3 linked regions of the Homo sapiens genome follow. The protein of the gene in region 1 interacts with the protein of each later gene in a pairwise test. Each region holds a gene or a part of one and is shown on either strand. Other genes may lie near its edges. The genes, in order: BFSP2, CAGE1 and CCDC183.

The links.
Region 2: the proteins of BFSP2 (region 1) and CAGE1 interact in a two-hybrid assay, tested with the Homo sapiens proteins (one large-scale study listed by BioGRID and IntAct).
Region 3: the proteins of BFSP2 (region 1) and CCDC183 interact in a two-hybrid assay, tested with the Homo sapiens proteins (one large-scale study listed by BioGRID).

The regions. Positions count from the first base shown.
Region 1 is NC_000003.12:133,403,005-133,406,654, reverse strand, and holds part of BFSP2 (phakinin), read right to left. Parts: intron 1-3,650.
Region 2 is NC_000006.12:7,383,142-7,386,791, forward strand, and holds part of CAGE1 (cancer-associated gene 1 protein), read right to left. Parts: intron 2,732-3,650; coding exon 2,644-2,731; intron 1-2,643.
Region 3 is NC_000009.12:136,802,726-136,806,375, forward strand, and holds part of CCDC183 (coiled-coil domain-containing protein 183), read left to right. Parts: coding exon 1-61; intron 62-1,201; exon of another isoform or gene 1,202-1,776; coding exon 1,777-1,902; exon of another isoform or gene 1,903-2,036; coding exon 2,037-2,091; exon of another isoform or gene 2,092-2,631; coding exon 2,632-2,732; exon of another isoform or gene 2,733-2,859; intron 2,860-3,324; exon of another isoform or gene 3,325-3,352; coding exon 3,353-3,513; intron 3,514-3,650.

The sequences.
Region 1 (3,650 bases):
AGGAAGTCTCTAATCATCCTCATTATTCAGATGAGAAACTGAGATGCAGAGATCAATGAAGACCTTGGCTCAAGATCACACGGTTGGTAGATGGCAAGCGGCAAGGCTAGGGGCTGTCTGGCTTCAAAATCCCCAGTCTTTGCATCACATCTAATTTTCCCTAGTTTTCATGGAAAACTGACCCCACCCCCTGTCTTCCATTTCCCAACATGGAACTCACATTTTAAGAGATCTTAAGAGGTTTAAGAGTGGCCGAGTGTGGTGTATGAGAGGGGCATGGAAAGAGGCCCTGAGTGCCACACCCTAGTCTCCCTCTGTTTTCTTTAGCAGTTCTCTTGCTTTCCAGACACATTCAACTTCCAGAAACCACCTTTCTTAGAAAGCAGCTTAGTGACTGGCTGGGCACGGTGGCTCACGCCTGTGATCCCAATACTTTGGCAGGCCAAGGCTGGTGGATCACCTGAGGTCAGGAGTTTGAGACCAGCCTGGCCAACATGGTGAAACCCTGTCTCTACTAAAAATACAAAAAAAAAAAAAATAGCTGGATATGGTGGTGGGCACCTGTAATCCCAGCTACTTGGGAGGCTGAGGCAGGAGAATCGCTTAAACCCGGGAGGCGGAGGTTGCAGTGAGCCGAGATTGCGCCACAACCTGGGCAACAGAGTGAGACTCCATATCAAAAAATAAATAAATAAAAATAAATAAAGAGGCTTAGTGGCCACCTGTATTATATGAACAAGACCCTTGGGAAGCAGGCTCATGCCTCCTTCTCCCCCTCTCCCATCAAAATATTTCTTCCAATCATATACCTCACTCTTCCTAAGAGGAATGAATCTCTCTAACGGACTTTTCTCTGGTAGCTACATTTCTAACCATACTGTAGTGTCCCTTATAGCTTGGCTGACAAAGAAACCGCCCCACTGGCCTGCTCTGACCAAACAAATTGCACTGATTAAGAAACAGGCTGAGTGACTTTTTCTTGGGGAAATGTGTTCAGGCCTTTGCAGATTATGATTCTGCCCCCATCACCTACTTTCCAGGGATACCAGGTTGTAAATCATGAACAACAAACCCTGTTGCCTTTATTTATTCTCAGTGGAGAAGGATTAGTTCTTGTTTTTTTTTTCTAAAAAGAGAGCCTTCTAGGACCACAAGTTCTGTGGGAGAAACCTGGCCCAGATCTGGATTGCCTGAGTTTCCAGCATGTTCTTCAAGTAGGCAGATTCCCTGAGTATGGGCTGTCTCTGTGCAAGGGACAGAAAGACGGGCTGTGAACAGCAGGAAAAATAGTCAAATCAGGTCCATTTTAAACTCTAATCCTTTGCCTTTCAACAATTTTGATTTCCCATTTTCTCCAGCTGACAGCCTTATCCTTTGGAGGTATAAGCTGCAGTTTTCTCCCATGGAGACCTAGACAAATGTCCTGGCTCCTTAATTTAGAACCTCTGCGCTCCCCTTTCTTCCTCAGGCAGCTTCATTCTCCCCCTGGCTTCAGCTGTTCCTTTTGTTTTGACACCTGGTCTCTGAGGGCTGCTCCTCTGACCCCACTCTCCTTTCATCTGCAGCTCCGAGGCACAAGGCTGCCTTATTCCAAGCTTGTGTTTGGCCTATTTGAGGATGAAAGGGCCTGATGTTGCCATCAGAGCCTATTGTCAGCATCGTTCATTTGGTAAGAAAAGTCAGGAGCACAGAGCAAGGCTGGAGAGGGAAATGGCCCAGGTCTTCCTCAGCCTCTGTAGTTGCCACCTGGGGTTTTTCTGTCCGTTTTCACCACTTAGCGAGGCTTGGAGGTTCTAACACAGCTGAGGAGTGGGAGGAGAGAGGTTTGGAATTGAAACAGAACTTCATATGCATGAACCCTAACTAGGACCAGCTATATAATTTGCGGATCCCAGTGCAAAATGTGGGGCCCCATGTTCAAAGAGCAGGAACAAAGTGCGATTTAAGTTACTCAAATATAATGCTTTTTCCTTTCTTCTGTCATGTTTCAACTTGTTATGGTAATTTTTATCTGCTATTTAATTTCCACTCCCTGGGGAATGGGGATGCTCATGCAGACCTTTATAGGCATCCAGAGGCCTCGCTCCATGATTCTGGGCATGTGCATACCCCACCAATGGCTGCGGTACCTTTCTTACCGGCCATTGGACCGATGTACCATGTCCTGCTGGTGGGGTGGGGTGATAACCCCCAAGAATATTACGACCTCAGTGCCACCTGTAGGTACCTGGGTTGGGGGTGAGCAAGAGGCTTGTCCTCTCCCTCCAGTTGCTGCCACCCAGGGGCTTGGAGCAGGTGTCAGAAGGGGCTCCCAGGGGCAGAGAGGTGGGCCAAGAACCTGTTGTAGGGAGACAGAGGGAGGTAGGACCATTCAAGAGCCCCTGGTCCATACTCCATTGTCCCACAAGACTTCACTTTTAAAACACAAATTCAAAGATAAAACTATTGGCTGGGCACGGTGCCTCATACCTATAATCCAAGCCCTTTGGGAGGCCAAGGCAAGAGGATCTCTTGAGGCCAGGAGCTTGAGGTTGCAGTGATCTCTGATGGCATCGCTGCACTCCAGTGCAGCATCCTATGAGACTTCACTGGTGGTGCACCCATGGAGCCAACCCTGGCCCCAAACTTACATAGTGATATAAGGATGAGGAAGATTCCCCCCTCCCCAGGACGGCCTTCCTGATTCTGCCATGGTGTGAGCCCTCCTGGCACCCTAGTTTCGTGTTGCTTTCCATGATGTGACTCTCTGCACAGTGACAGCAATTGTTTCCCTCCTCCTGGCTCCTCTTCCTGGCTTTTCTGAAAACCTGTCTTTGTCTCCTCTGGGTGGGGGTGAGACAGGCTGTGGGGAGATTCCAGGGGACAGGGGACCCCCACTCCCCAGAATGGCCCCAGGAGCTTTCTGTGCTAGCTGGGGTGGTGATGGCAGGGAGGAGAGCCTGTCTCCTTTCCAACTCTTCTCCCCCTCTGAAAGCAAGAGGAAATGTTGTTTCCCAAACATTTATGGAAATTGTTGCCTGCTCTGACCTTCCCCACTGCTTGCTCCAGCCTGATCCAAGAAAGTGCCACCAAAATGGACATCCCCACCGTGCTATTGAGTGACTGAGGTCTCTCTTGGATTCTCTGTTTGGGGCCCAGGCTAAGGAGGTCGAATTTCTCTCTAGGTGCCAACTTGGGGCTCAGTTGCTGAGAGCTTGCTCTGAGGCCTCAGGCCCTGCATGGGCCCTGAGGAGTCACAGAGGGTTGCCATGGAACTGAGCTGCAGGACCAGGAGGAGTTCTGTGGACAAGGGGGGGAAGAGGCAGCTGCAGGTGGAGAAACAGGAGGGGTAAGGAGTGCTGTGAGGAGCACGGAACACCAGAGCCCAGAGTCTGGAAAGGTGGGCATGAAGCCCCAGCCAGAGTGGCCTAAGTGAGGGCAGAGGGAGAGAGCTCTGGATTTCTGGGGCCCAGGACCGCAGAGTGGCTGCCTCTGACCCCAAGTGAGATGAAGGCAGCGTGTTGTGGAAGGACTGGGCTGGGAGGTGGCCTTTCCTCTAGGCCTGGAAAGGGGTGGGGGCCTGGTGGGGGCCTCCTGCAGCTCCACGAGGCCAGATTCACTGAAAAAATCAGGAGCATTTCTCAATTATGGAGTTTTCTTTTGTTCTTCTT
Region 2 (3,650 bases), on another chromosome or scaffold:
CTGTCGTCATTTAAGACATGCCTTGCTTCCTGTTTGTCTTGTGCCGTGATTCTGTTTCGAGGCCTTCCCAGTCATGTGGAACTGTGATCCAATTAAACCTCTTTTCTTTATAAATTATCCAGTCTCAGGTAGTTCTTTATGGCAGTGTGAAAACAGACTAATACAGCATTTTCTACACTTCTTTTATAAGTTAGAACTTTGCAGTTCACATGTAGGCCTTTACCCATGTGGACTTTATTTTGTATTTGGTGTGAGGTAAGGTTCTAATCATTTTCTGCATTGAGAGAGCCAACTGTTCCAGCACAACCAAATGAACACCCCCACTGGTTTATAATGACACCTCTATCAAATACCAGGTGTCCTCATATATAAATGGGTCTACTTTTGGACTTTGTCTTTTATTTATCCCACTGGTTTGTTACCCTTCTGCCTATAATACATTGTTATAATTACTATAACTAATAACTCTTGTTATCTAGCAGGGTAAGTCTCCACATCTTCTTTTTCAAAATTGTATTGGGTATTTTTTTTAACTTTTTCACTTCTGAATGGGGATGTTAGGATTAAGGTAGGATACATGAAATTGCATTAATCAATAGACTTCAGGAAAACTGACATCTTTACAATCTGAACATGAAACATTTAATTATTTTTTATGGCCTCCAGGAAAGTTTTATAATGTTTTTTAATGGAAACTTACACTTTTTGTTAGATTTATTCTTAGGTACCTTAGTTTGTGCTGTTACTGATAATAGTAAGTTTTTAAGAATTACTGTTTTACATTTGTTGTTGCTAGTGCATTGAATGCTATTGGTTTTTTAATATTAATTTTATATCTAGCTTTCTTCTAAACTTTCTTATTAGTTTTAATAGCTCATCTGTAGGTGCTTATGACTTTTCTATGTAGAAAAGTACATATTTGCAAATAATGATAATTACTTCTCTTCCTTTCTAATCCTTATAGCACTTATTGTCGCCCAGGCTGGAGTGCAGTGGCACCATCTCGGCTCACTGCAAGCTCCACCCCCTGGGTTCATGCCATTCTCCTGCCTCAGCCTCCTGAGTAGCTGGGACTACAGGCGCCCACCATCATGCCCGGCTAATTTTTTGTATTTTTAGTAGACACGGGGTTTCACCATGTTAGCCAGGATGGTCTCGATCTCCTGACCTCGTGATCCGCCTGCCTCGGCAGCGCTTATTTTTCTTACACCTGCATGTATTAAATTCCATAATTTCAATAAGCCTTGTCAAATCTTTTCATTTTAGTATTATTTGCAAGTATTAAAAATAAAGACATTTGTATACAGCATTTAGATTTACTTTAATAAACATGATCAGTGTAGGGCCCGGTGTGGTGGCTGATACCTGTAATCCCAACACTTTGGGACACCGAGGCAGGAGACTCACTTGAGCCCAGGAATTTGAGACCAGCCTGGGCAGCATAGTGAGATCCATTTCAAAAACAAAACCAAAAACATGATCAATGTATCTCATTATATGATTAAATCCTAAATAGCTTTCATCTGTCAATTTAGGATTAGAATAACAGATTTGGGGTTAAATCAACACACAGCTCTCTTTTTTTTTTTTGAGACAAGGTCTCACTATGGTTGCCCATGCTGCAGTGCAGTGGCGTGATCTCGGCTCACTGCAGTCTCAGCCTCCCGCGCTCAGGTAATTCTCCCACCCAGGCCTCCAAAATGGACCACGATGCCTGGCTAATTTTTTGTATTTTTAGTAGAGACGGGGTTTCGTCCTATTGCCCAATCTGATTTCAAACTAGTGGACTCAAGCAATCCTTCTGCCTTGGCCTCCCAAAGAGCTGGGATTACAGGTGTGAGCCACTGTACCTGGTGTTTTTTGTTTGTTTTGGTTTTTTTTGAGATGGAGTTTCGCTCTTGTTGCCCAGGCTGGAGCGCAATGGTGCAATCTCGGCTCACAGCAACCTCCACCTCCTGGGTTCAAGGGAGTCTCCTGCCTAAGCCTCCCAAGTAGCTGGGATTACAGGCATGCACCACCACACTCAGCTAATTTTGTATTTTTACTGGAGACGGGGTTTCTCCATGTTGGTCAGGCTGGTCTTGAACTCCCGACCTCAGGTGATCCACTTGCCTCAGCCTCCCAAAGTGCTGGGATTACAGGCGTGAGCCACCGTGCCTGGCCCCCGCTTTTTTTTTTTAAGAGACAGGTTCTCCTTCTGTTGCCCACTGGAGTGCAGTGACATGATCATAGCTCATAACAGCCTTGGACTTCCTGGCTCAAGCAATCCTCCTGCCTTGGCCTTCCAAAGCACTGGTATTATAGATATGATCCACCACACCCAACCTCAATACACATTTAAGGATACTTGTATAGTAGAAAATTTTTGTGTCTGAGTCTGAGACTTGATCACGGCTCATTCATTTAAAGCTACACAATCCTGGGCAAGTTACTCTCTGAGCCTTATTTTCCTTATCTGTAAAATGAAGATAAAAACAGCCCTTACTTCAATTTTTTAAAATTCTTATTTCAATAAGATTTTTTTGTGGATTAAGTGTGATGATGTATATAAAGTGCTTAGCACAAAACCTGGCTATTGTTACTATCACGGAACACAAAAAAAAGTTTCTCTCTTTTGCATATTGCTAACAAGTAGATACTTACCATTTAACAAATTGTCTAGTGTGCCATAAGCATCTTCACAAAGTGTGGATTCATACTCATTTTCCCTTTCAAAATTCTTTATTTCGTTCTGTATTAATAAAAAAGGCATCAATACTTCAAGCAAACATCACAAGCTTCTTCTAAAGGTATTTGCACATTGTTACATAATTCTGCTATTAGAATATTTCATTACATAGGTAGAATGTGCTTTCTAGTATCTTTCCCCAGCATGTATTTGGCTCCCTTTTAGTAAAACTATGCTAACAGAGTCCCAATATTAAACAACAATGTAACAAATAGCTTGTTATTTTAATATTTTGGTTTTTTGGTAAGTCAAATCATGTGACTATAAACTTAGGGATACGTGATAGCATATTTATGTATTGATAATTATTTGATGTTTATTAAATCTAGTCTAAACAGCATTAAGATGGTTATTTCAGTCTTTTAACACTGAAGATATATAAAACAGGCATATATCTTTGATGTATTTTTATAAATTCCTATTTAGTGGAATCAGATGTCACTGACTATCAAACGTTTAGCACAACACTCATGAAGATATTGGGACATTACAATCTTTTATTTTTTAATAAAGGGAGCTAGGCATTTTCATGAAGACAGGAAAGTTGTCATTTATATGCAGGGTGCTGTCAATGTCATTATGAATGACAACTGAATCATTTGCATACTGATGTAAGTGGAAGATGCATTAGACTAGAAGTCAGGTTCCTTGGGCTCTTGTCCTGCCTCTGACTGAATTGGTCACGTCCCCTGGCTGCACTCCTGGCTAGAAAGGATCAGTTTTAACACTGTGTGTAAAAATGTACCTTGCTCTCTCGCATAGGCTGGAGTGCAGTGGCGCGATCTTGGCTCCCTGTAACCTCTACCTCCCAGGTTCAAGTGATTCTCCTGTCTCAGCCTCCAGAGTAGCTGGGATTACAGGTGCTCGCTTCCATGCCTGGCTAATTTTTATATTTTTAGCAGAGATGGGGTCTCACCATGTT
Region 3 (3,650 bases), on another chromosome or scaffold:
AGAGCTGTCGGATATGAAGATCATGTCCCAAGATGCCATGATGATCACGGATGAGGTCAAGGTGAGCTCAGGGCCCAGGGCTGGGGGCCCCCCAGGGCCAGCCCTCTTGGATCTTCGGATGGGGTCAAGGTGAGCTCAGGGCCCAGGGCTGGGGGCCCCCCAGGGCCAGCCCTCTTGGATCTTCGGATGGGGTCAAGGTGAGCTCAGGGCCCAGGGCCGGGGGCCCCCCAGGGCCAGCCCTCTTGGATCTTCGGATGGGGTCAAGGTGAGCTCAGGGCCCAGGGCTGGGGGCCCCCCAGGGCCAGCCCTCTTGGATCTTCGGATGGGGTCAAGGTGAGCTCAGGGCCCAGGGCCGGGGGCCCCCCAGGGCCAGCCCTCTTGGATCTTCGGATGGGGTCAAGGTGAGCTCAGGGCCCAGGGCTGGGGCCCCCCAGGGCCAGCCCTCTTGGATCTTCGGATGGGGTCAAGGTGAGCTCAGGGCCCAGGGCTGGGGGCCCCCCAGGGCCAGCCCTCTTGGATCTTCGGATGGGGTCAAGGTGAGCTCAGGGCCCAGGGCTGGGGCCCCCCAGGGCGGGCTCTCTTGTGTCTTCTGGCCAGGGTCTCTCAGGAGACCCCCATGCCCACACTGCCTACAATCCCCAGAAGGATCCAGTGGCCAGCCCGGCCAGCCTGCTCTGCTCACCCACTGGACAGAGCAGGTCCCATCCAGCACAGGAGCCATGAAGTAGAGGAGAGGGAGAGAACTGGCCGGGCCAGGGCGGGGGTCACCTATTCACCCAGTCTGTGCCAAGGTCCCTGCAAGGCTCTGGGGATACAGCAGGGACCGGGACAGGCAGACCCTGTCCTCCTGAAGTGGGTGGCACTCATCCAGTAGTCCATGAAGAAATGCCACACAGCCCCTGAGCCAGCTCAGCAGAGACAGGTGGGGTGGCAGATGGCTTTCCAGGAAGACAGTGCTTGAGCTGGGCTGAGGGATTGAACCCGCAAAGGTCAGGTGTGGCCAGGGCTAGGGAGGAGGAGGTACAACTTGGGAAAAGGCCCTGGGCTGGGAGGGGTGTGATACATGGAGCAGCGTGTGGCCAGGGCAGTGGAGGCTGCAGAGGCACAGGCCCCAGGAGTCCACGGAGGCGGCTGGGCTGGGGGCCCAAGGACTGACCTGGAGCCCTGGGAGGAGGTGGAGGAAAGATGTGACCAGGTCTGTGCTTCAGAAAGGGTGTACTCAGGCTGCAGGGACTGGAAGGTGCCAGGGCAGAAGCGCTGATCACCTGGGTATACCCGGGGTGGAGAAGGGGTGGCCAGGAGCAACGGAGCTGAGAACTCCTCAAGAGGCAACCCCACTAAGCGCTGGCAACGAGAGTGGCGAGGGTGAGAGCAGTGTCTGGGGTGCGTGAGCAGGGGTTAGCAGATGACGGTTTTAGCTGCCCAAGGGCACGCTGGAAGAGGCCAGGTTTTGGGGAAGAGGATGAATCTGTCTTCAGGCAGGCTGAATGCACTTCCGTGAGTTCTAGGTGGACCTGGCCAGGAGGCAGCTGGGGGCCAGCGGCTGGAGGGCAGCAGAGCGTCTGGGCTGGCACATGCTCTGAGGCATGGGCAAGGAGGGCCGTGAGCTGAGGGGCCACGGGCACAAGTGGTTTAGGAAAAGGGTGTGGCCATTGGCCGGGGATGCAGTTCCAAAGTCTAGTAAGGTGAGCATGGCCAACCGCCCGCTGGCTTTACTGCCATTAGGGGCCTTGTTGAGACAGCTCCCCAACCCTGTGCCCACCCGCATGTCCCCAGAGGAACATGAGGCAAAGGGAGGCGTCCTTCATCGAGGAGCGCCGGGCAAGGGAGAACCGGCTCAACCAGCAGAAGAAGCTGATCGACAAGATCCACACGAAGGAGACCAGCGAGAAGTACCGCCGGGTAAGCCCCAGGCCAGGGCCTGGCTGGCTGCCCATCCCCATGACAGCTGGGTGGACACAGGCTCAGGGCCACCACTCAGGGCCCACTCCCTGCCAAGGATGTCTCATCCCTTCCCCGCCCCCACCTCCCATCAGGGCCAGATGGACTTGGACTTCCCCTCGAACCTGATGAGCACGGAGACCCTGAAATGTAAGCGCTCAGCTCCCCACCTGCCCCCAGCCAGGGTCCCAAGGAGAGGCTGGCACTGATTCAGGCCAACGGATCAAGTCACCCTGAGGCCAGGTGTGACATGTGGTCGCCAGGGTGAAGGGAAGGACAGGTCCCTGCCTCTCCCTCCAGAGGCTGAGAGCCTGTAGCCAAATGTGGCCTCAGAGATGCTGGCCCCAGCACCCAAGGGCCCTGCACCAAGGGCCCAGTCCCCAGTGACTCTGCAGAGGATGAGCATCCTGACCCCTAAGCTGCCTCTGAGAAGCACCACCGGGCCCACAGTGCTCACAGTGCTGCGCCACTCACTCCGGGTCCACCTCTGCTCTGGGGCTGCCTGGGGCGTCCCTGCAGGGCTGGGCTGAGGAGGGAGCAGGTTGGGGCGGGGGCAGGCATCTCTGAAGGATGCCTGTGTCTTGGGTGGCCGCCCCAGCAGCTGGGCAGGTACAGAGGTGTCTGACAGCCTTACACAGAGCCCCTGAGCCATCCCTGCATGCTGACTGCCCCTCCCCTCTGCTCTGCCAGTGAGGAGAAAAGAGACCTCCACAGCAGAAATGGAATACCAGTCGGGCGTGACTGCTGTGGTGGAGAAGGTCAAGAGTGCTGTACGGTGCTCTCACGTCTGGGTAATGCCCCTGGCGCTCCCAGAGAATGGCAGGAGGGTGGCTGAGCCTCTCACGTCTGGGTAATGCTCCCTGGCACTCCCGGAGCATGGCAGGAGGGTGGCTGAGCTGGGCTGGGGTCTGAGGCACTCTGAAATGGACACACAAAGTGGCAACTCCCTCGGCCGCCCCAAATCCTTTTATCTTAATCCCATCTGTGTATCTGCGTTTATTATTATTAGGCCTTGAGCTCCTAACCACTGCCCTGACACAAGCTTGTCCACTGTCAGACAAGTGACTCAAGTGACACAACGTCCTTCAGTGATGATCTCCTTATCTCTACATGGGGTTATCTACCCTCTCTGCCTGCCATTAGGGTCGTGTGCAATGACATCCACAAAGCGCTTCACCCCTGCTAAGTGTGGTGGTGCACACCTGTGGTCCCAGCTACTCAGGAAGCTGAGGTGGGAGGATCGCTTGAGTCTGGGAGGTTGAGGCTGCAGTGAGCTGTGATCACACTTGTGAATGAGCACAGAGAAAGTGCACTAGCGTCTAGGAGGGGCCCAGAAGAAACCAGTTCTGTGAAGCCCCCTCTGCCCACCATCCTGGCCCACACCTGCTTCTCTCTCCCCCGGACTGGCCAGGACATCACTAGCCGCTTCCTGGCCCAGAGGAACACGGAGGAGAACCTGGAGCTGCAGATGGAGGACTGTGAGGAGTGGCGGGTGCAGCTGAAGGCCCTGGTGAAGCAGCTGGAGCTGGAGGAGGCCGTGCTCAAGTTCCGCCAGAAGCCTAGCTCCATCAGGTGCCCCGGGCTTCCGGGGCTGCGGGCCACCCACCCCAGTCTCACAAAGGCCCCGGGCTGCAGCCAGGCTGGGAGCTGGGAGTATACCCACTGCCAACAAGCCTGTGTGTCCCACAGAGGGGCCAGGGGACTCCACT